Linked DNA regions of Homo sapiens. The protein of the gene in region 7 purifies or fractionates together with the protein of the main gene of each other region. This does not show direct contact. Each region holds a gene or a part of one and is shown on either strand. Other genes may lie near its edges.

Evidence for each region.
Region 1: the proteins of ARPC1A (region 7) and NFASC fractionate together in Homo sapiens (co-fractionation; one large-scale study listed by BioGRID). This does not show direct contact.
Region 2: the proteins of ARPC1A (region 7) and ARPC3 purify together in Homo sapiens (affinity purification with mass spectrometry; 10 studies listed by BioGRID and IntAct, with this or other methods). This does not show direct contact.
Region 3: the proteins of ARPC1A (region 7) and NCAPD2 purify together in Homo sapiens (affinity purification with mass spectrometry; 3 studies listed by BioGRID and IntAct, with this or other methods). This does not show direct contact.
Region 4: the proteins of ARPC1A (region 7) and NCAPH purify together in Homo sapiens (affinity purification with mass spectrometry; 3 studies listed by BioGRID and IntAct, with this or other methods). This does not show direct contact.
Region 5: the proteins of ARPC1A (region 7) and HACD3 purify together in Homo sapiens (co-immunoprecipitation; one large-scale study listed by IntAct). This does not show direct contact.
Region 6: the proteins of ARPC1A (region 7) and AGFG1 fractionate together in Homo sapiens (co-fractionation; one large-scale study listed by BioGRID). This does not show direct contact.

Annotation. Positions count from the first base shown.
Region 1 is NC_000001.11:204,978,652-204,982,151, reverse strand, and holds part of NFASC (neurofascin isoform 1 precursor), read right to left. Parts: intron 3,185-3,500; coding exon 3,083-3,184; intron 2,791-3,082; coding exon 2,593-2,790; intron 1,783-2,592; coding exon 1,712-1,782; intron 355-1,711; coding exon 132-354; intron 1-131. UniProt on the Homo sapiens protein: Cell adhesion, ankyrin-binding protein which may be involved in neurite extension, axonal guidance, synaptogenesis, myelination and neuron-glial cell interactions.
Region 2 is NC_000012.12:110,440,338-110,443,837, forward strand, and holds part of ARPC3 (actin-related protein 2/3 complex subunit 3), read right to left. Parts: intron 52-3,500; coding exon 1-51. UniProt on the Homo sapiens protein: Component of the Arp2/3 complex, a multiprotein complex that mediates actin polymerization upon stimulation by nucleation-promoting factor (NPF).
Region 3 is NC_000012.12:6,525,102-6,528,601, reverse strand, and holds part of NCAPD2 (condensin complex subunit 1), read right to left. Parts: intron 3,020-3,500; coding exon 2,886-3,019; intron 2,535-2,885; coding exon 2,402-2,534; intron 2,316-2,401; coding exon 2,231-2,315; intron 2,155-2,230; coding exon 1,987-2,154; intron 1,712-1,986; coding exon 1,539-1,711; intron 826-1,538; coding exon 714-825; intron 635-713; coding exon 511-634; intron 430-510; coding exon 274-429; intron 1-273. UniProt on the Homo sapiens protein: Regulatory subunit of the condensin complex, a complex required for conversion of interphase chromatin into mitotic-like condense chromosomes.
Region 4 is NC_000002.12:96,363,266-96,366,765, forward strand, and holds part of NCAPH (condensin complex subunit 2), read left to right. Parts: intron 1-1,215; coding exon 1,216-1,326; intron 1,327-2,610; coding exon 2,611-2,793; intron 2,794-3,500. UniProt on the Homo sapiens protein: Regulatory subunit of the condensin complex, a complex required for conversion of interphase chromatin into mitotic-like condense chromosomes.
Region 5 is NC_000015.10:65,568,463-65,571,962, reverse strand, and holds part of HACD3 (very-long-chain (3R)-3-hydroxyacyl-CoA dehydratase 3), read right to left. Parts: intron 1,873-3,500; coding exon 1,760-1,872; intron 991-1,759; exon of another isoform or gene 890-990; intron 416-889; coding exon 309-415; intron 1-308. UniProt on the Homo sapiens protein: Catalyzes the third of the four reactions of the long-chain fatty acids elongation cycle. This endoplasmic reticulum-bound enzymatic process, allows the addition of two carbons to the chain of long- and very long-chain fatty acids/VLCFAs per cycle.
Region 6 is NC_000002.12:227,559,156-227,561,717, reverse strand, and holds the end of AGFG1 (arf-GAP domain and FG repeat-containing protein 1), read right to left. Parts: 3' UTR 501-2,562; downstream 1-500. UniProt on the Homo sapiens protein: Required for vesicle docking or fusion during acrosome biogenesis. May play a role in RNA trafficking or localization.
Region 7 is NC_000007.14:99,356,898-99,360,397, reverse strand, and holds part of ARPC1A (actin-related protein 2/3 complex subunit 1A), read right to left. Parts: intron 2,059-3,500; coding exon 1,983-2,058; intron 854-1,982; coding exon 660-853; intron 1-659. UniProt on the Homo sapiens protein: Probably functions as a component of the Arp2/3 complex which is involved in regulation of actin polymerization and together with an activating nucleation-promoting factor (NPF) mediates the formation of branched actin networks.

The DNA.
Region 1 (3,500 bases), on a different chromosome or scaffold from region 7:
ACAGAACATTTTTCCTTCCTGGGAACTGGCTGTCCTCCCATACCCACCCCAAGGTTCCTGGCCTGTGAGCGTGGCCTCGTGCGACCTAGCCACAAGGGTCCTGATGGGGGGACGGGGAGGAGACTACTCACAATCTTCTCCGGAGTAACCGATGACGGACTCTGGCTCAGGGCCCTTCCCGAAGTCATTTTCAGCCTGGACTCGGATCTCATAGGGCACGTAGACTGGGGTCTGCCCCACCACGTAGCGAGAGCCCCACACTGTGACGTTGTTCCAGGCCTCTCGAGTCTCTCTCCGCCTCCACTTGACAATGTAGCGCAGGTTGGGGCCAAAGGCCGAGGTGGCATTCATGGGCTGGGCAGAGGGACAGACAGGCTGGAGAGGCTGCCAGAGAGGGGCCCAGATCCACCCACAGCTTGCCCTCTCTTGCTGTGCCAGGCATCCCTTCCAGATGTGCCCAACACTGGCCTGCCCCCTTGCAGGGTAGGGAAGACCATATCCCCCACCCCAGTGAGTCCCCCAAAAGCCCAAGGTCCTGTGAACCCAGCAGCATGCAGATTTTCTGTGACACAGGCTTCGCCTGAGACCCAGTTACTCTGACTCTGAGAGCCACCCGCATTTGTAGGTGCAAAGGTTTTATTTTCAACAAAACTCCTTCCTGTGACAGGAGCAACCAATAAAGCAAAATATAGACAAAAGGTAAACTTCTCCAAAGTCAGAAGAAATGAGTTGTGGTTAACCACAGCATGGCTCCTGCTAATGAACTCAAAATTCCAGAATGGACTTTAGTTCTACCGAATTTGTGTGTGTCTGTCCTGTCCTTCCCAAGAGGTCAGAGTTCTTTAAACATGGGTGTGATTCTGCTCTTTATTTTCTAAGGGCCTGGCCCAGGAATCAGTCCTCTTGGAGCCTGCTATACAGAGCCACAGACCAGGGTCCTGAATCTGGGCTCAGCCCAGCTGCCGTTGCCCTGTTTGGCCAAGGCTGCTGTGGGAGCAGCCTTCAGAAAGACAGGGAAGGTCATGATCCCAAACACTGCATCTCCCAGTTTCCATTACTCATGGCAGAAGCTCAGAAATGTTAATATTTCAGTGGCTGCGTTTGCATTCTCAGACTGGGAAGTGGTTTGGGAAAAAAGTCATTTTGAGACCACATACTCCAGTTTTGGTTTGGAAAATGTAGTCAGTGAGCCAGCATGAAGATGGGATTTTCTAAGACCAGAGGGAGTCTTTGGAATGACCTAGTCCATTCTTGGACCAAAAGAAAGCCTGTACTGGACACATCTCAGATGTTGGTCTCTCCCCAGCTCCCACAAATCTCCAGTGAAAGGGCCCTAGGACACACCAGAACTTGGTTTGGTGTTGTGCTTAGATCTTTTCTAAAGTCTAACCCCAGTCCCTCCTCCTTCAAGAGAAGTCTGCTTGATTTTGCTGCATCCTCTATGCGTTTTGCTAGACTGGCAGTCGGTGGACCCTGGTCCCCTCTGCTCCTGTCTCCTCTCTGAAATCTTACACTTAGACATTTGTCCTGTTTGGTTTCTGGATGCCCAACTCAGAGAGGAGCTTGGTTTCTCAAAGAAGAATGGCCACCAAGACCAGCCAGAGAGTCTGAACCACATCATGGCCTCGTAGTGTCGGGGCATCAAGGGAGAGGGGCTCCCGGTGCATGCGGCAAGGTGAGCTGCTCCACTGGGGCTGGGAGGGCCTCTTACCGTCCACGTGATCTCCATGTTGTTCTTTCTGGTCCCCTCTCCCTTCACGTCACCAGGATTGGACTCGGGGGCTGGAACCCAAACAGACACAGGCTCAAGTCCAATTTGTGCCTTTCCAGGGCAAGGTAAGGAACCTTCCTCTGTCCTACCTGATGGGTCTGTTCTATGCTCTGTCTTTCCTCGGCATCTATGTATACGCTTGGTCTGGTATGTAAATGAGCTTACTCTGTGCATGATGTGCCTTTTGAGCTGAGATTTAAACTCCCAGAGCAGGGCTAATTTCTTCTGAATTTTAATCCTTTACCAGACAGCATTTATCATAAGGCTTTCCACACTGTGGGTGGTCAGTAAGCCAACTCAATGTGGATTAGCTCCTTTGTGGATTATCCACTAAATGTGTTTCATACCAGACTGGCTTATCCCTGGCATTTAACATTTTTTTTGGGCAGCATCTCTACCCTCTATGAGCTGGTGTGATTTCAGAAATCCAAATATTACCCAAGAGTGTTAGGAAAAGAAATCTGATGTAATACCAATTTATATATTTCTCACACTGAATTATGTATTTCTGCTGTACCTCTTTGCCACAGCTCTCCCCTTTAAAGCAGATAATCAAGAATTACTAATAATAAAAATGGAAGTTAGCATTTATCATGTGCTCACTACATGCCAGGCATCATAGTAAGTACCTGGCACACATTCTCAAATGTTCACAACAGCTCTGTGATGTAGGTGTTATTATTACTCTCTGCCTCACAGATGAGGCCGGGCCTTGGAGAAGTTAAGTAACCTAAGTTCACATGGCTGGGAATGGGGGGATCTCAGTGTGAGTTTGGGGTGCGGGGTTCCGGAGCCTTCTCTGGCAGCCCTCGGGTACTCACGTGCTCCACTGGTTCGGTAGCGCTCGGATGGGAGGCTGGGGTGGCTGCTCCCAACCTCGTTGATGGCAATGACACGGAACTGGTAGTTGACATACGGGGACAGCCGGAGGACGGCTGAGTTAACGCTGCCGGGGTACTTGGAATGGTCATGCCAGACCCCAGGTTGGAACTGGTCTTCTTCAAACTGGACGACGTAGTCTGAGTGGGCAAGGAAAACAGAGCTGTTTCGGGAGCTCAGTTAGCAGTGGTCTTCTTTAAAAGCACTTCCTTCTTGGCTTCCATTGATCTTTATAATCTCTCTCACACAAAGGCACAAGGAGAATTCTTCCCAAGGCACAGGAAGAGACACCAAGGCCTCTGTACATTCTGAGGTTAGCCCAGGACACACATCAAGCGAGGCAGAAGTGGGGCTGGAAACCAGGAAAGGCCTTCGGTTTAAGGGTGTTGCCGTCCCTCTTTTCCAGCTTTGGGGTGCAAGGCCCTGAGCTACCTGTGATGGGGCTGTTGTTAGCATCCCCGGGGATCCAGGTCAGCCGCACGCTCCTCTCGGCCAGGTCGGTCAGCTCCAGGTCCCGGGGCCGGTCTGGCCGTCCTGGTGGCAGAAGACACCACGCAGGCCTCCTGAGTTAGAGCAGGTCCACCCTTGTGATGGCCCTAGCCCTGGACAGCTCCCTGACGGGCTGTCTTCGCTACCAGCTGGATCCAACCCCAGCCTGCCCTGAGGGGTGAGCACAGGGACCACTCCCTTCCCACAGGGGCCCAAGGGAAAACAAAGAGGAGACTCCTGAAATCCCAGCCCCCCCCCACAAAGAATATCAATGGGTGTGGAACAAGGAAATAAAGGGGCTTATGCAGACAGAACTGGGACCAACGCCATTCCGTCTTGGTGGATCTTCTGAGAGTGCAAG
Region 2 (3,500 bases), on a different chromosome or scaffold from region 7:
CATTGGCCTTGAAGTAATAGATGGCTTCATCCACAATATCTGTATCTTTTGCTAAGCAGGACACAAGGGAAGGAGCACAGAGAACATTAGCCAAATACAAAACATAACAACTATCAAAGCCATAAAGGGAAAACACATACAACTGTCAACAGTTGTGGAGTTGAATAAAATAAAATGATCCTATTGAAATACAAAGTTTTTAGAAAATATTTATTTGTTTTTTTTTTGAGACAGAGTCTCGCTCTGTCACCCAGGCTGGAGTGCAGTGGCGTGATCTTGGCTCACTGCAAGCTCTGCCTCCCGGGTTCACGCCATTCTCCTGCCTCAGCCTCCTGAGTAGCTGGGGCTACAGGCACCTGCCACCACACCCCGCTAATTTTTTGTATTTTTAGTAGAGATGGGGTTTCACCATGTTAGCCAGGATGGTCTTGATCTCCTGACCGCGTGATCCGCCCATCTCGGCCTCCCAAAGTGCTGGGATTACAGGCATGAGCCACCGTGCCCAGCCTTTGTTTTTTTTTTTGAGACAGAGTTTCACTCTGTCGCCCAGGCTGGAGTGCAGTGGCGCGATCTTGGCTCACTGCAAGCTCCGCCTCCCGGGTTCACGGCATTCTCCTGCCTCAGCCTCCCAAGTAGCTGGGGCTATAGGCACCTGCCACCATGCTCAGCTATATTTTTTGTATTTTTAGTAAAGACGGGGTTTCACCGTGTTAGCCAGGATGGTCTTGATCTCCTGACCTCGTGATCCGCCCATCTCGGCCTCCCAACGTGCTGGGATCACAGGCATAAGCCACCGTGCCCGGCCAAATTTTTTTTTTTTGAGACGGAGTCTTGCTCCGTCGCCCAGACTGGAGTGAAATGGCATGATCTCGGCTCACTCTGCCTCCCGGGTTCAAGCGATTCTCCTGCCTCAGCCTCCCAAGTAGCTGGGATTATACGCATGTACCACCAGGCCTGGCTAATTTTTGTATTTTTAGTAGAAATGGGGTTTCACCTTGTTGGTCAGGCTGGTCTCGAACTCCTGACCTCGTGATCTGCCTGCCTCAGCCTCCCAAAGTGCTGGGATTACAGGAGTGAGCCACCACCCCCGGATTTTCAGAAAATATTTATAGAAAAGTAGTACATGGTTTATTTTTACAGCTTTATTGTTTTCGTAAAACTTATACATGCTCATTAGAAAATGAAATTCAATCAAAACAGTTTTATTTTTTAGAGAGAGGTCTTGCTCTGTTACCCGGGCTGGAGTGCAGTGGTACAATTATAACTCACCACAGACTTGAATTCCTGAGCGCAAGTGATCCTCCTGCTTCAGCTTCCCAGGTAGCCGGGACTACAGGCATGCACCATGAGGCCTGGCTAATTTTTTTCTTTAAAAATTAAATAAAATTTTTAAAGAAAAGTTTTTAAAGATGGCTGGGCACAGTGACTCACGCCTGTAATCCCAACACTTTGGGAGGCCGAGACGGGTGGATCACCTGAGGTCAGGAGTTTGAGAGCAGCCTGGCCAACATGGTGAAACTGCGCCTCTACTAAAAATACAAAAAATTAGCCAAGCATGGTGGCAGGCACCTGTAATCCCAGCTATTCGGGAGGCTAAGGCAGGAGAATCGCTTGAACTCGCGGGTGGAGGATGCAGTGAGCCAAGATTGCACCATTGCACTCCAGCCTGGGCAACGAGATCAAAACTCTGTCTCCAAAAAAAAAAAAAAAGTTTTTTTTAGAGATGCAGTCTCACTATGTTGCCTAGGCTGGTCTCAAACTCCTGGCCTCAAGTGATCCTCCTGCCTCCTGAGTAGCTAGGATTACAGGCATAAGCCACAGCACCAGGCAAAAAAAAAATTTTTAATTGTCACCTTAATTCCCATTTCCCCAAAAATAACTACCATTAGCATTTGGTGAACATTATTCAAGACGTCTCTCAATGCATTTATAAAAAAACACTGAGACATAGACTAACTTTAACTGCTTCCTAAAAATAAAAAGTATTCAGTCGGGCGCAGTGGCTCACGCCTGTAGTCCCAGCACTTTGGGAGGCTGAGGCGGATGGATTGCCTGAGGTCAGGAGTTCGAGACCAGCCTGGCCAACATGGAGAAACCCTGTCTCTACTAAAAATACAAAAACTAGCCGGGCATGGTGGTACGTGCCTGTAATCCCAGCTACTCAGGGGGCTGAGGCAGGAGAATTGCTTGAACCCAGGAGGCAGAGGTTGCAGTGAGCTGAGATCATTCCACCAAACTCAAGCCTGGGTGACAGAGCGAGACTCCATCTCAAAAAAGTAATAATAAAAAATATATATAATTAAATAAAATAAAAAGTATTCAATATAATTTTATTTGAATTTACATATTATAGTTTCAGAAAAAAACTCAATTATTTAGAACATGTTGAGGTTCAGATACACATCTTTCTTTTTATGAAAACTATGACTTAAAATATACTTGTACAAGCTGTTGTAGGTAGCTCTAGACGGACAAAAGCCAGAAATACTGTCTTGACAAAGACAGATCTCATGACACAATTTGTTTGGCAATTTTTTGTTTTTCTTCTTCTTATTTTAAAAAGGTCAAAATCCCAGGGTCTTGATATCTGGCAGTTGGTTTCAGCAGTGCTGAGACAGTTACTTATACTTCTTGTCTATGACTGTTAACGTTCTCGCACAGCAGAAATGCAAAGTAATCTTGAAGCTTTCATACTCTGCAATTCAGTTGTCTTCATCCCAGCTCATTGCCCTGTGGAAGAATTTCAACAGAACTCTAACTCTAGACTTGTGTTCCTTGCAATTTACTTTTTTTTTTTTTGAGATGGAGTCTCGCTCTGTTGCCCAGGCTGGAGTGCAGTGGTGCAATCTTGGCTCACTGCAAGCTCTGCCTCCTGGGTTCACGCCATTCTCCTGCCTCAGCCTCCCGAGTACCTGGGACTACAGGAGCCCGCCACCACGCTTGGCTAATTTTTTGTATTTTTAGTAGAGATGGGGTTTCACCGTGTTAGCCAGGATGGTCTCGATCTCCTGACCTCGTGATCCACCCGTCTTGGCCTCCCAAAGTGCTAAAGTACTGGGATTACAGGCGTGAGCCACCGCGCCACGCCCTATTTTTTATTTATTTATTTTTTCGAGATCAAGTCTCACTTTGTCGCCCAGGCTGGAGTGCCATGGCACAATCTAGGCCCAGTGCAACCTCCGCCTCCTGAGTTCAAGTGATTCTCCTGTCTCAGCCTCCCATGTAGCTGGGACTACAGGTGCCTGCCACCACAGCTAGCTAATTTTGGTATTTTTGGTAGAGACAGAGTTTCACCATGTTGGCCAGGCTGGTCTCAAACTCCTGACCTGAGGCAATCTGCCCGCCTCAGCCTCCCAAAGTGCTGGGATTACAGGCGTGAGCCACTATGCCTGGCTGCAATCTGTTTTCTTATCTGTGAAAGAAAACTGTCTTGGAGGACTCAATATTGTTTCCAAAAACCAGCTAGTTCTTCTAAATGCAATGACAGGAGGGGGCAAAGG
Region 3 (3,500 bases), on a different chromosome or scaffold from region 7:
GGAATCAATTATCCCATGCTCTGCCACTCCAGAAGCAGTCAGAAAGCTGTCTAGAGTTGAAAGCTGGAGTGGGGGAAAGAGGTGAAGCTTCTAACCAGAAGTGTCAGTCCCACTGGGGTGACTCTTAGCCAGGGGCCTGTACAGGTCAAGTATCAAGCAGATGTTCGCGGTGATGCCAAAGCCTAGGGGAAGAGCCCTGGTGATTCTCACACTGACTCTCAACAGACTCCGGGGCTCCTGGGAACTGCCACCACGTTGTGAGGGGTCTCTTACCGAGCATACAGATGAGGAGTCCAGGGGTCCACCAGATTGGGAAAGCGGATGGCCAGATCCCCAGTGGCAACCATGAGGTTAGACCGGACAATGGGAAGTGGAGACTTTTCCAGCATGGTGAACAGAAGACGAAGCTGGGAGTCGCAGAAAGTGGCACTAAGAGCAAGAAGAGGATCATTAGGGAAGCCATTTCATCCCCATCTTCCTTGAGAAGGGGGTACCAACCCCACGGCCTACCTGATCATGCAGAACTTGCCAAGGGCAAGTGAAGCAGCTGCAGAGAGGTCTGGGTTGCTATAGAGGCCTGGGTTGTTACAGACTTTAAGCAAGAGTGGAACAAAGGCAGCCAGTGTCTGTTTGCCTGTTGGAAGAGTAACTGCAGGTTTGGGACAGGTTATCTTAATTGGGAAGAAACTGCTGAGTGCAGCCATTTTTCTTACCATCCAACAGTTCCATCTCGCAGATGCCACGGATTAGTTCTGCCTCTGTGTCATCTGCTGTTGCCCCAACCAGCCCCAGCTCCTCCTCCATGGTGGTCTCAGAGCTCGTATTCTAAAGGGAATGAAATTGGGGATCATGGATAAGCAGAGACAACATTTTTGATTCCAGCCCATACTTTGTTTTGCATGAACAAAGTGAGGAAGGGCAAATTCTACAAAAACATTTAGAGAATTGTCAAATGTGTCTGTAAAGAGAAAGGATTCCTGAATTAAGCAGGGGAACAATGAGGTCCCCATTTGTTTTAAGTTGCCAAAGCGTGTTTCTGCACCTCTTCCTCATGGAAGACATCGTTTCCTATATATGGTAAACAGATGGATCACGCCAGACAATGGTTCAAAGTCACAGAGGTCAGACTTTTCTCCAGCGCTGCAAGGCTCTGTGTCTTATTTGTCTGCAAGACATCATTGCCTCTAGTGGAGGGAACACAGGGCCCCATCCGGGGCCAGGCCAGCAATGGAAGCTGATGGAAAAGGCCGGCGGGTACGTGCGTGTTCTAACAAACCCTGCCTCAGACACAAAGCCTCTGTTTTATGCTGAGGTCTCTAACTCCACACTCTGCATTTACCTAAATCTTTCCTTCCTGGGTGATCACTGACAGTTTCGTCATTGTTCACACGAACCTTTCCTACGGTAGTAGCCACAGAGAGGCAGAAACTCTTCGCTTCATGTAATAGCAGAGGAGCAGAGATTGCCGGAAGGGGATCAGCTCAGTTCTGAGCTGAGGTATGAAATAAATCTGGGAAGTGCTGAGGACATTCACACACCTTCTCCTTGGGATCTTTGGTCTTGTGCTCCTGTTCTTCCCGGAGAACTCGGCGCCGGCAGAGCTCTCCACTCACTGCCTGCTCCAAGTGGACCAGCTGCTGCAGAGCCACATCCCCAGCCAGGGACAGCAGGTTCATCAACAGGAAAGTGGGGAGCATTGCGGGGGACTCCTCTGGAGGAGAGGGAGAGGGAAGGTGGGGCAAAGAGACATTTTTAAGTCCCATCAAACCTGAATCCGATTTTTACTGATCTTCCCCTTGCTCACGTGCTATTCAAACTAGTGAAGTAGTAAGAGTTGGGGGTGGGAACTGGCCCAACTTCAACTTAGACAAAAACGACACAGTGTACACTAAGGGTTGTTGCAGATAGTGGTGGTGGCAGTGGCTCCTGGCCCTGCAGGGAGAACAGAAGCTGGCTGCCGCAGTGGGTCAACCCCTGCCCACTTACTCGGGTCCTCCTGACTGGTTCTCTTCTCTTCTAGCTTCTCCAGGGCCTGTTTTGCACAGCCCTGCAATATCTGGGCACAGATCACTTCGGGGCCCTCTGCCAGTTGGTAAATGAGGGTCACTGCCACCTCTTTGAATGGGATCCAGAGTGGGTCTGGGTGGACAAAGCCTGCAGAGGAGGAGGGAGAAGTTGTTTACTGCAACAAAGGGCCCAATTCTGCCCAAGGCCTTCCCTGAGAGCTCACCTTTTGTGACTGTCTCCCGCAGTCGCTCAAACAACCTGTGTTCCTGAGGCAGCCGGAAGGGGGGGTGACGTTTGCCCAGAGAAGGCTGTGGAGAGCAAGACAACGTGGGTGTGTGTACAGGGTGGACACGAGAATCTCCACTCTCCTTAGTTTGGAACCACCCCCACATACCTTTCTCCTGTCCGAGATGTTGGCAATGGCATGGCACACCTGCTGGGCCAGCCTGTAGTCCTGTGGAAACTTCTCATCCAGCCCTATGCTCACCAGTGTGTCTAAATTGCTTCCCACAATTTCTGGCTTTCCTCTAGGGGAAGGAAGCCACAGAGTTAAAGGCAGTCATGGATTGGACTCATCGGGGGAGAAAGGGCCAATAGGGGTAGGTACCAGCACCTCATGTGGTGTCTAGAGCCGTGGAGCACTATAGCGTGGCTCTGCCGCAGGGCCAGCCTCTTGGGTCCTGTTGCTTTACTGAATCCCACTACTACTAGGCAGGAGGGCTGGTCCTCTCACTATTTGCTTTTCCATTTAGGTGGCGTTATAACTCACAGCAGAGCTCAGTTGGGCCTCACTGTGACAATGTCACTGAAGGAAAAGGAGCCCTCTCAGAACCTTCCTTTGCTCTCCCACCCCATTGCCTGCTAGATTTGAGCCTCACCGTGCCATCATGCCAAGAAGCATGACAGAGGAACAGCGCTCCAGAGGACAGCAGGCGACCTTCTCGGTGGCCCGCTCCCACAGCAGCTGGGTCACTGCTGGTTTCAACTCATCCTTCTGCACAAACTCACAGAGCTAAAGAGAAAAGAAAAAGGGCTCAAGCCAAAAATGAACAATTCCTTGATCTTTGGTCTGCTTTTCTGAAGATGATATTGCGAACCTGAAGTAGACAAAAGTAATACTTAGGAAGAGAAAAAGAAAAGAGGAGGTTCAAAATGTACAGCAGGGTCTTGAGAGGCTTTCCATTCTCTACTTTTCTACTCTCATGCCTTCAAAACTATTTTATTCAAGTGACATATCGAAACTGACCTTTTGAGTTCCACGTGGGTCCATAGTTCTAAGTCTGGAGATTTCTAACAGGTTTTCTTGCCGTTACCACAAACTCAACATGTCCAACATGGAAGCCATCATCCTTCCTTGCCTTTTCATTTTGCCAGTGGTATCAACACTCTATCAGTAATATGTGCTTAAAATTTCGGTCATCTAATTTTTTTACAAATCAGTCACTATTTTTCCTTTAAAAATTTGTCTTCCATTAAGCCCATTCTGCAGTGAT
Region 4 (3,500 bases), on a different chromosome or scaffold from region 7:
GCATAGTATAAGCATAACTTTTAAATTTGTGTGACTGGAAGTGCCTGTATTAAACACTGGACATTTGGCTAGGGACACCTGAGAGTGTGCCCAGAGGAGAGTATTCTAAATGAAGATGCAGTTAGAAGTTGTGTCATATGAAGAACAGTGGAAGAAAATGGGGCGTTTCTTAATTCAAGTATTTATTGTTTAGTAGTAGTTTTGGATTTGTTACAAGCACATTGTGGGTTTATTTGAGTTGTTTTTGAGGCACAGAATTATATTAAAATATTCAGTGTGCTCTTGTAAACTGTGCACATCTCCAGTCACATTTCTCCTACTTCAGAGATTTATATATCAAGTAGAAATCACTGGTCTAAGGAAGGACCTGCAAATATTTGAAAGACTGTGATCCATAGGCACTCGTAAAAGAGGAGCCTCATTCCACGAGGCTCTGGAATACAGAATGAGGATGATGGATGTAATTAGAGGGAAGAGCTGGATGTCTCTCCTTGTTGCCATGTAGGGAACAGTGGTTTCCATTCAGGAATGAGACAGGCTGTTAATTAAGGTAATGGGTTTTCCTTTTTTTTTTTAAAGACAGGGTCTCAGGCTGGAGTGCAGTGGTATGAGTATGGCTCAGTGCAGCCTCAACCCCTGGGCTCAAATGATCCTCCTGCCTCAGCCTCCTGAGTAGCTGAGACCACAGGCACACAGCACCATGCCATCTTTTTTTGTAGAGATGGGGTCTCACTGTGTTGCCCAACGCTAGTCTCAAAATTCCTAGGCTCAAGCAGTTCTCCCACCTCAGCCTCTCAAAATGCTGGGATTACAGGTGTGAGTCACCGTGCCTGGCTGGTAATGGGTTTTCTGTCAAAATTGTTCAAGTGCAACAAGGTGACTTTCAGAAAGCTGGAGGGTAGATTTTCCAACTTTTGTTTTTAGTGAAGGAACCCTTTTTCAGGTAAAACTGTGCAGAAGGCCTAATTGCCAGTCACACAGAAATAGAGCTGCTCTGGTTTATTTGGGATTGGTAGAGATGCTGAGCCCTGCTACTCCAGGTTTGCACTGTATAGTGGAAAAGTCTGTTAGACTTAGATGACTTGTGAGGGCCCTTCTGACTCTAAAATTGTATAATTCTAGGAGGAGATTGGGCATAGGAATTAAGATTTACTTCTCTAACCTAGTTCAGTAGCTTTTAACAAAATAGCTTTCTGCATTTATTCTTTCCTTTAGTTACTTAAGATGGCCCAGGGCCATAGGGTAGAGACTGAGCATTATGAAGAAATTGAAGACTATGATTACAACAACCCTAACGACACCTCCAACTTTTGCCCTGGATTACAGGTAAAGGGGGGAAAGGGGCTCTGTCCTCTCTTCTAAGCCAGGGAGTCGTTTTTCTCTGCTTCTCATGTCCCCATTTTATATGGTGGGAGACTGTTGGCAATTTTGAATCCAGTGGAGGTTTTCTGGGTAAAGGGTCTGCCTTCCACCCAGTGCAGGGAGCTGAGCAGAGTCAAGGAAACAGCCTCACCTTGGCCTGCCTTACCTCACATCCTACATGCAGGAAGCAAATGGCCACACTCAAGTGAATGCGTCGACATGTGGATGGGTGTTTAGCCTCTGCTACAAAGTACTAATCTTGGCTGTTGTGGGATTTCAAAGGAATATAAACACTTTGTCCTCTTATGAGCTAATATTTTGGCCAGGTAGACAACCAGATCACACCATATGTGATCTGGTGTGGCAAAAAATAAGTCTTCGGGGTGTATCTCAGATGACCAGATTTCTAGCTGTGAATGCAGTTCTCATATTGCAAGCTTGCTGTGAACTTGTACAAGCCACCCCCCATCTTTAGATCACGGTTTAGACTAAATAATTTCCATATCCCTTCTCTGAGTCTACTGATGAGATGGCTAATACAGGTAACAGAAACTGGAAAAATAGGCTTCATCTGTGTCCCTGTATGTGGAAAGGGGGGAACGAACTGGAAAAAAATGTATTCACCTTATTTTCTTACTTAGGAAGAGAGTTAGGCTGTTATATTTTAGTGAAAATCCAGACTGACCTCTTGACTAGTGCTTCTCAAACTTTAACTTACATACAAATCACCCAGGGAGCCTATTTAAGGACTGATTCCTGACCTGTGTCCCCCCACCCCACCCCCTGCCCGAAGATACTGATACATTCACTCTGGATGTGATCGCAAAAATGACTTTCTCACCTGCTTCTGGGTGGTATGCCTGCTACTGACCAGATGGCCCCAGGAATCTCCTGTGCTTTCCTTGGGTGATATGTTCAGGTCATATCTCCGGTATTTGAGGAATGTTTCTGTAAAATGAAATCCTAAATTTGTTAGAAGCTGAAGGGGGGACATAGTGGCAATTATGGTTATCGAATTCCTTTTAACTCCCGCTCAAAAGGTCTTAGGTTGATAACAGACACCTCTCTAATAGGGTTTACGTGAAACAGGATGATAACTAGAGGCACCTAGAAGTTCATCGTAGTGTAACTCACTGAGTGAACCATCAGATGGTCTCTTCTTGCTTTGTAAACATGGAGTCTATTTCAAGGGTGTTTCTGAGCTCCTCTGCAGCGTCCACCAAACTCGAAGAGCTGTTTCTTGCCCAGGCTGCTGACAGTGATGATGAAGATTTGGATGACTTATTTGTGGGACCTGTTGGGAACTCTGACCTCTCACCTTATCCTTGCCATCCACCTAAGACAGCACAACAGAATGGTGACACTCCAGAAGCCCAAGGATTAGACATCACAACATATGGGGAGTCAAACTTGGTAGCTGAGCCTCAGAAGGTACGGATGAAACAGCTGAGAATTACATTGTTTGCCTGAAATCTATTTAATTGTCTCTTATATGAGAGTCACGCAATCTGAGCTTGATTTCTTTTCTTCTCAGTTTTAACCTGTTGCTCTCCAAGTTTTAAATAGGGTTGTGGGAGTGAGCTGATGCTAATTAGGTTTGTGTGGAACTGACCATCTCTCCAAAGACCTTGATAAGACATGTAACTAGGGAGGAACTGGTCACCCAAATAAGGCATATGAATGAAGGCTGCAGGCAGAGAATATAAATTTATATGCTAATTCAGCAAGGCTAGCTAGCTAGCTGTGTGGCTCTGAAAAATCTTGGCCAAATTCAGTTTGTATTAAATTATCATGTATTAAACATTTATCTCTTCCATACCAGGTGGCAGGCTTTATGCTTGCCTTTATATTTGATTCATTTATCTCTTTTACACTGGAATTCCAGTTAGCCTTAATGTAGATTGCACTGGATTGAAAAGAAATTAGATTTGATATGAGGGACTCTATATAGTGTCCAAAGAGAGCTCTGGGCTGGGCGTGGTGGCTCACGCCTGTAATCCCAGCACTTTGGGAGGCCAAGGCGGGCAGATCACGATGTCAGGAGTTCGAGACCAGCCCGGCCAACATGGTGAAACCCCGTCTTTAATAAAAATACAAAAATTAGCTGGGCATGGTGGCAGGTGCCTGTAATCCCAGCT
Region 5 (3,500 bases), on a different chromosome or scaffold from region 7:
TGTATGAGATGTTTGTCAGAATAAAATAAAGTCATCAGTAAGAACCCCCTTTGGAATACTAAAAGCATCATACAAATGGGAAGCATGCAGGACATAACCACCTGGCTTTCCAATGTTACAAAATGAGCTACTTTTCTCGAACAGTCTGGGTACCAGGAGTATTATGGAAGGAAGCCCATGGAAAGAAATCCCTGAAAAATCCAACATTTCCATTTATCGGACTAAGGCCGGGGAAGAAAGGACTGGTCTCTCAGCCTCTGGGTACCCCCTGGAGCTAAGCTATGAAAGCTAAGAGTCCCTGAGAGTACCTTCCGCCAAACATCCCAGTGGATATAAGGGAATCCACAGAGTGTAACGAAGCCATGTGAGCACCTTCCAATCCATGTCAATGCACGTCAGCATGTAGAAAGAGTACCTATTGAAAATAAATGATTCCAATGTGAAAAGCCACTTCAGGTTCCGAATGCAACCTTAGAATATCATTTAAATAGAAGAATTCTATTTCTCAGCCACACATGGCTTCTTCAGAACAGAATTATAACGCTGGCTATCAACCCATAAACTCCTGCCACACTGCGCCCTAAATTTTCAAAGGATCTGAACGCTCTTTAATGGCAGACTAAGTTTAGGTCTCAAAGGAACCCTCTTTATTCGGTAAACGGACTGGATACTCAGATGTTTTTTGGCTTTATTCCTAGTGCTGATATACATTCCCGGTGGGTAAGGATATTAGATACTTTATTTCTGGATAAGTGAGTTGTTACCAAAATTAAAGTATACAGAAGACCTCTAATCTAGAATCAGACATATGCTATTTTAAAAGACATCCCTTGAGAAAATAAATGTTCCTTCTCAAACAGTAAACATTGCATTAAGGACCCATAATCTGATCCTTTTATAGCTCATAAGTGTGATAACTGGATTTTCACTCTCCTGTGTGAGATGTGCTTCCCTCAAACCTTGTTACATCAGCACATTACGTGTCTGATTTGAAAAACATAGGACCTATAATCTGTTTTACCTTTGTATTAAGGCTATTAGAGGGTACACTGGGTGCCATGGGACACAGACCATGGTTAAGACACAATTTAAGGCTGCTATGGCCTGTTCTCTCTCTCAACTAGCAACTTTGTCAAAATACCACCAAACCTGGAGCTGAGAAGTTCATTTGCAAAATCCTTGCTCCAGCTGACTGAAAGGGAAGACATATGGAGTGTGTATGGTCTGGTAAAGAAGAATACATCTACTTTAACTAGATCCATTTCTTAAAAGATATTTATGCTACTAACAACCGAGAACGGGAAAATTGGGTTAGAGGCCATTTCAAACTTCAATAATCTTGTGGTATAAGATTCATTTCTATCATCCCTTGTAGAAATTTAGTCTTAAATTAGTTCTATCCAACCTGGATTGCTCCTTCAACCTCCTGTTTCTTCAGCCCTTTCAAGAATTTTTCCATGTGGATGGGTCCTCTCTTTCCAAGACTGCAAGATCCTGAAGTCATGGTAAGATGAGTCTTCCCTTTCTCTGGTTCTCCTCTTCTGCTCCCTAGTATCCAGTCTGGTATTATGATCCAATGACGGCTTTAAAAAAATCTGTCTCAACTTTGCAGAGCACATAGGTGCAACCAGAATTCTCCACATATGTAATCTTAGTCCCAAACCAAATGAGACTCTGGCTAAGATAACAACTCCCTCAAGAACAGAGCTGCTGCAAACAGGGAGCAGCATTCAAACACCATCCTGGCATTTCTACCCACCTGAAAATTTCAATTGCACTCCACAAATAAAACACAAAGAAAACCACAGCTTTGTTCTGCATTTCTTCCATGGTGCCAAAGATGATAAACAAAATAAAATTTCTTCCAAGAAGCTATTAGAAAGACCCAAAAGAGAGAAAAAAGTTAATAAAATATATGTAAAGTTATAGAAATGTGTTATCTGAAATCTAACCCCACTAAATGCAAGGCAAATAGAAAAGATTGACCTCGACCAGTTTAATCCTGCTCCAGTTCTGGAACAAGTAAAGTGCCCAAACCAGTCTTTGTGACTAGACAGGTACAGTATTTTGTGTAACTATATCATAAATCATTTCTTTAAAATACAGACACATGTTCAAACGCAGTCTAAAGAATACTGCCAAATAAACATTTGAGTTTATATAACCCAAGTTAAGAAATAGAGCACTACAAACGTGGGACCCCTATAAATAACTACTATCATGTGTTAATAATTCCATGGCTTTTCTTTTTTATCGAGACGGGGTCTCGCTCCGTCACCCGGGCTGGAGTGCAGTGGTGCAATCATGGCTCACTGCAGCCTTGAACTTCTGGGCTCAAGCAATCCTCCCACTTCAGCCTCTCAAGTAGCTGGGATCACAGGTGTGTGTACTACCACACTGGCTAATTTTATTTTTTTGTAGAGACGGGGTCTCACTGTGTTGGCCAAGCTTGCTCAAACTCTTGGGCTCAAGTGATCCTCTTGCGTCAGCCTCCCAGAGTGCTGGGATTATAGGCATGAGCCACTGTGCCTGGCCCATGGCTTTTCTTTATGAATTACTGCTTGTGTATGTATTCCTGAACAGTATATTGTTTCATTTTGCCTGTTTTAAAACTTTCTGAAATCATTCTATATGTATCATTCTGTGACTACTTCTTACTCAGAGTTACGGGCCAGAGACTCATCTATGTTTTTTGGTCTTGTTTTTTTTTTTTTTGAGACAGAGTCTCGCTCTGTCGTCCAGGCTGGAGTGCAGTGGCACGATCTTGGCTCACTGCAAGCTCCGCCTCCCGGGTTCATGCCATTCTCCTGCCTCAGCCTCCCGAGTAGCTGGGACTACAGGCGCCCGCCACCACGCTCAGCTAATTTTTTCTATTTTTTAGTAGAGACGGGGTTTCACCATGTTAGCCAGGATGGTCTCGATCTCCTGACCTTGTGATCCACCCGCCTCGGCCTCCCAAAGTGCTGGGATTACAGGCATGAGCCACCGCGCCCGGCCAAGACTCATCTATGTTGATGCATGTGGCTATAGTCCACTCATTTTCACGTGGCAAGACATTCCAATATATGATAGACATTCTATTCTTCATAGATATCTGGGTTGTCTGTTTCTGGGTTTTATTCTGTTCCCGTGGTCTGTGTGACTATCTTTGTACCATACAACGTGGTATTAGCTACTAAATCTTTATACTGTCTTGATTTTTTATAGGGTAAGTCCCCAATTTGAGCTCGTCTTTAAAGAATATTCTCGACCTTTTGCTTTTTTCTTTTTCCCATTTTAAAAATTGTGGTAAAATACACATAATGGCTGGGTGCGGTGGCTCATGCCTGTAATCCCAGCACTTTGGGAGGCCGAGGCTGGCAGATCATTTGAGGTCAGGAGTTCAAGACCAGACTGGACAACATGGTGAAACCCCATCTCTATTAAAAATACAAAAATTAGCCAGGCGTGGTGGCAGATGCCTGTAGTCCCAGCTACTCGGGAGGCTGAGGTAGGAGAAT
Region 6 (2,562 bases), on a different chromosome or scaffold from region 7:
GGAAACAAAATTTTCTTCTGTGTTCTGGTGATGGTTAGTGAAAATAATTTAAACAAGATGTACAGAATAATCAAGATGGACTCATAACAAATAATAGTCAGTGACCACTACAGAGAAATAAGATTAGGGATGTGACAAACACAGTTCAGCATTTACCTTCTAAACTTCAACAGTAGTAAGGTAGGTAAATTCCCATTACAATGCTTTCTTAAAACCAACTTCCATCAATGTGTACTCCAGAAAAAAAAAAATCCATCTTTGAAAAAAAAATATTGCAAATTAAGTAACAAATAGATCCTGCTTTTTAAAAATGAAGACTTTTTAATTGAAAAATACAGAAAAAAATGGCAAAACTTATTAATTAATGGAAAACACGTTAAGCTGGAAGTAAATGCATGAGCTGCTTTACAGAAATGCATAATGTGAGTGATGAAAGGAACAAATATTCTTCCAATTTTCCAGATTTGACACTCATTTAAATGAAAGAGGCTATTCCCAAATGGTACACAAATTCAGAAGTCTTTATTTTGAAAAAAATTCTTCCAACAGTATTTCACAATGAACAAGAACTTAACCAAATTTATCTATCATACTAAAGTATTTCAGAAATGAATATTGAAAACAGCCTGTAAGTTTTCATCCAATATTTAAAACCACCTCCTGAACTAAAATTGGTCTTCAAAAATCATGGCGTATTAACATTTTCCAAACATGCCCTGCTGACTAGAAGGTCCTGTTATTCTTTCTTTTGAACTTCCCAGTAAGTTTCCTTGTTCCCTATTCCTAGGATTTAAAGTGCAAAGGTACTTTTTATGAGCTATTAGGACAAGTATTCTTCATTGAAAATAAACTTTTGCAGAAAACAAATCCTGTGCTTGACTAACAGCAAAGACATGTTAAGAAATTTCTGAGCTCCAAACCATGAGGAATCAGAATCACAACTTTCAGAGTAATAACTCACATTTTTTCTAAAGCATAGGAAGCTAATTTTGTATAATGAACAAATGTGGTTGTGCCAAAATAGGTTTTGCCACAGTTAATTTCCACTTTCTCTTCTTAAAAATAAGGTATAGTCTAAGCTAATGTAGATAAGGAAAGGCACGATACCAACAAACTGCAAAACAAAGTATAGCCCCAAGCCATGCACTTTTTAGAGTCATGAGTAGGGACAATGAAAAAATTAAGGTGCAAAATAGATGTGAACTTCCACAATCTTTCAATGGACTGTCTTAACAGTTTAATTTAAAAGCATAGGCTTTTTCATATATCTTCAGATAGTCAGAGAGATTTTTTTTCTTCTTTAAATGGAAGAATTTCTTAAATGGAAGCACAAGATCATACCTACACAGCTGGTGAGCCTCAAAATAGAATAATGTCTACTTTATTAATAAAGTTTCCAGTCAGGCAGAATCAAGAGTAATCTTCATATATGCATAAGGATATTATCATTATAACAATATTTTTAGTAGAAAAGTCTATAAACAAATGTTCTCCCAAAGGGACATCCATATAATGGAATCCTGGAGACATTAATGTTAGAGCTGGAAGGTGGCAATATGGAAAGACAACCAAGTTAAACAAGAACCAAGTCACAAACTTGAACATTTAAAATAAGAACAGGAAGAGGCATACAGAGAGAGAGCCATATATAAAATAAACGATAACATTTCTTAAAGACTACACAAGAATACAAGAAATTATATGCCTCTGGGGTATGAGAATAAAGTCACAGAGGGAGACACACTTTTTGACTTTATGCCCTTTGTGTATACTGCATAATTTTTAGAAATCATAAGCATATATTATAGCATACAAAAAACCTTTAAAGTCTTTAAAAAACCTGATTGTAACCAAAGCATTCTATGAAACATTGACTATGTAAGATTAGTTTACAATCCCTTGCTGCCTTTAGTTAATGATCATATAGTCAAAATTAGAAGGCTCCTTGGCGTTTGCTTCCTCTGTCTCTCCACTCAAGAATGAGGGAAGATGCTGAGAATTTAGAATTCAAATTTTACTCTCATTGCTTAAATTGTAACTTGGATAACATCTCAAGATTTCAGAGAACCGATTAAAAAATTAATCTATGGGCATTTTAATCACCATCTAAAATATTTTATCTAGGATCACTTATCTTTTTTTATAAAAGCTCAAATCACAACATTCTCTTTTCATCAGTCCCTACAGCCCTGTGTTGGACAAGCACAGATGTCAAAAATACACTTAAATATACGTTGAATTTTTATCCACTAGAATAAAATAAGCAGAATGATATGCATTCTTGGCGATAGTCTTCACTGGAAAATACCACTGTCAGCCCAAACTTACACAACTGACTTCAAAATCAGACTAAGATGTGGCATAAGAAGAGCTATTTCCTACCTTCACTATATATTCAGGATTTGCCAACTCCAAGGCCTTGAAAAACATGTGAATGTTTGAGACTAAGAAAAATTGGGAATGGTAAGCTAGTGGCCACCTTAAGAGTACATGCCCCATTTCAAAAAGATGGATTCAGAATGCAACGTTTTAAAACACTGTGCTGGTCACACAAAACAGAAC
Region 7 (3,500 bases):
GCCGAGATTGTGGCATTGCACTCCAGCCTGGGCAACAGAGTGAGACTCTGTCTCAAAAAAAAAAAAAAAAATTAAACTTTCTGGACAAAACACAATTCTGTTGTCTTACATAATTACATATACCTGATGAAAACCCAGTCGAGACACTCCTCAGCTTTGTCATCATGATGATAAGAAATTCTGTTCCTTTAATTAAATAATCTTCTTATTTGTATCCATTACTTGAAACGACAGCTACAGTTACCTTTTCCAACAGGCTGTAACTTCGCTTTCTGTTATGTGTGCACTACTGTGGGAACGCAGCATTCAGGAATGTCTCCTTTTGTTCTCGAGTAGCTGAGAAAGGGTACCCTAGGAAGCAGCTGCCCTGAGGCCCCACCACCTCAGATTGCAACAAGGTCTGCACTGCTCCTGCTGGCTGCTGCCTTGTAATCTGCACCTTGAAGGACAGAATGACCAGGTGGTGGCGACTCCCTCCCTACCACGAGCTGGAAATGAGAGCCTGGCGGTCGGGAAGATACAGACTTCTTGCTGCACTTGTCCCTGAAAGAATGTCTGGGCCTGAGGGGCATAGAGCTTTTGTAGGAACCCAGTAAGGAAACAGCGAGGGGCAGGAAGGCACCTTGTCACCTGACCACCTCTCTACAGACGGCACCTACGTGATGCTATTCTGGTGCAGCGTCTCCAAGGCCGTGTTGCGGTCCTCAGTTGTGGCTCTCTTGTCCATGTTGCGGAAGCGTTCCATGGCAGACATGTTGCGTTGGATGCTCTGTTTTGGAATATCTAACTTGGAGACGAAGGTCAGGCAGCCGCGGTCATCGTAGTTAAAGAGCATTGGGCAGCAGTCATGGCCCTGAAACAAGACTCAGTCAGTCCCTGGAGGATGCACTGCCCACCGCCCACCTCCTTGGCAGAGTGTTCACCACGACAGGCCTCTCTTACTCTTTTTTTTTTTTTTTTTTGAGACCGAGTCTTGCTCTGTTGCCCTGGCTAGAGTGCAGTGGCACAATCTCAGGTCACCACAACCTCTGCTTCCCGGGTTCAAGTAATTCTCCTGCCTCAGCCTCCCAAGTAGCTGGGATTACAGGCGTCTGCCACCATGCCTGGCTAATTTTTGTGTTTTTAGTAGAGACGGGGTTTCACCATGTTGGCCAGGCTGGTCTTGAACTCCTGACCTCAAGTGAACCACCCGCCTTGGCCTCCCAAAGTGCTGGGACTACAGGCGTGAGCCATCGTGCCCCACCCCCTCTTACTCTTAAAAGTGAGCGGCCGGGCACGGTGGCTCACACCTGTAATCCCAGCACTTTAGGAGGCCAAGGTGGGCGGATCACGAGGTCAGGAGATTGAGACCATCCTGGCTAACATGGTGAAACCCCATCTCTACTAAAAATAAAAAAAATTAGCCCGGCGAGGTGGCGGGCGCCTGTAGTCCCAGCTACTCAGGACGCTGAGGCAGGAGAATGGCGTGAACCCGGGAGGCGGAGCTTGCAGTGAGCCAAAATTGCGCCACTGCCCTCCAGCCTGGGCGACAGAGCAAGACAGTCTCCAAAAAAAAAGTGACCTCTGAGGCCGGGCACGGTGGCTCATGCCCGCACTTTGGGAGGCCAAGGTGGGTGGATCACCTGAGGATGGGAGTTCGAGACCGGCCTGACCAACATGGAGAAACCCCGTCTCTTCTAAAAATACAAAATTAGCCAGGTATGGTGGCGCATGCCTATATTCCCAGTTCCTCGAGAGGCTGAGGCGGGAGAATCGCTTGAACCCGGGAGGCAGAGGTTGCGGTGAGTCAAGATCACCCATTGCACTCCAGCCTGGGCAACAAGAGCAAAACTCCATCTCAAAAAAAAAAAAAAAAAAAAAAGTGAGCTCTGTTTCTTCTAAAAAACTGTTCTGCTTTGTGCTAGGGTGACAGAGCACACATTGTTCCCTGTCTGAGCATCACATACAGTGCACCCCGAGGGAGAATGAAGAAAAATACTCACAGCAGCCACGACGCTGTTCTCTGAGACAAATGACACACTTAGGAGCGGCAGGAACTCTGTCTTCAGAGTCGAGACCCTGAACACAAGAACATGTGTTATCCCAAGATGCAACAGACTATTAGCTTCTTTACAGACACAGATGATCACAAAGGACCCATTCTCACAGGGGCTTCTGCAGTATCAATGGGCACTTATGTTGAAAAGGAGCCCCTGACCTCAACTTGCAGGCCTCTCAAGACAGGGGCAGCCCTGGGTTCCGGCTCTGCCTCCTTCTGAGGCCCTGCCCACTGACGACAAACTGGTTCCCAAAGCCCAGTCTTTGCATCACGCCCTTCCACCCCCAGCACAGCTCTAAAGGGATCACCCCCATGATCCCACGGTCCACTTTCCCGGGCCACTTCCGCCTAAAGTGGCTTCTCCCTGCTCTTAGCTCCTAGAGCTCTTCCTGTTACTATGACTTGGCAGCAGACACCTGTGCTAGGACCTTCTCCTTGCCTGTGCTCACCGGAGCTCCGAGAGGGCTGTGACCACACAGATCTGTGCTGACGGCCAGGCACTGTGTTAGGAGCTAGAGCTACCAAGATGAACCAAACGGTCTTAGCCAGGAGCTCACACTCGAATGGGCCATGTGTGTGTATGTGTGCCTGCAGGGACATGTGTGTGCATGTAGTTATTTGCTCTTGAATGTGGCAAAGAGATTACACAGATATGGCAGGCAGACACACTGGCTGATGAGTTAGGAGCACCTCACTTCATGCAAGAAACGATGCATTCAAAAGCTGACTGTGGCTGGGCATGGTGGCTCACACCTGTAATCTCAGCACTTTGAGGGGCTGAGGTGGAAGGATTGCTGGAGGCAGGAGTTTGAGATCAGCCTGGACAACATAGTGAGACCCAGTCTCTACGAAAAATTAAAAAAAAAAAAAAATTAGCCTAGAGTGGTGGTGCACGTCTGTGGCTCCAGCTGCTTGAGAGGCTGAGGTGGGAGGAGAACTTGAGCTCAGGAGTTCCAGCCTGGGCGACAGAGAGTGTCTCTCTAAATTAAAAAATAAAAAAAAGCTAACTGTATATGTCTCAGGACACCCTTCATAAAGTTGGCATTGAATTGAAGAACTAATGTGTCATCTTAAGCCCTTAGTGCGGTATACCTGACTTTTACTACATGAGATATTTATGTTGGAGGAGTGGAAAGGTGGAGCATGTAATCTGACTTGCAGGACTGGAAAAGGGAAAGAAGTCAGTACGAGGGTAGACAGGGACTTGTAATAAGTGTATGCTAAGAACTTACTGTGTCACAATAAACCATATAAAAATCAAGTAACACTGGCATCAAAATACAAAAGTATTATCAAGTATTAAAAGGCAAATTACCAAATGTATATAAAAATGTATAAAATAATCTTATTTCTGTTAAAAATGAAAAGATATATAAGTGCCTGTTTATGTAGGGAAATCTTCTGAAAGACTACATTTTATAATGGAAGGGACAATCTTTCTTTTTTTCTTTCTTTTTTTTGA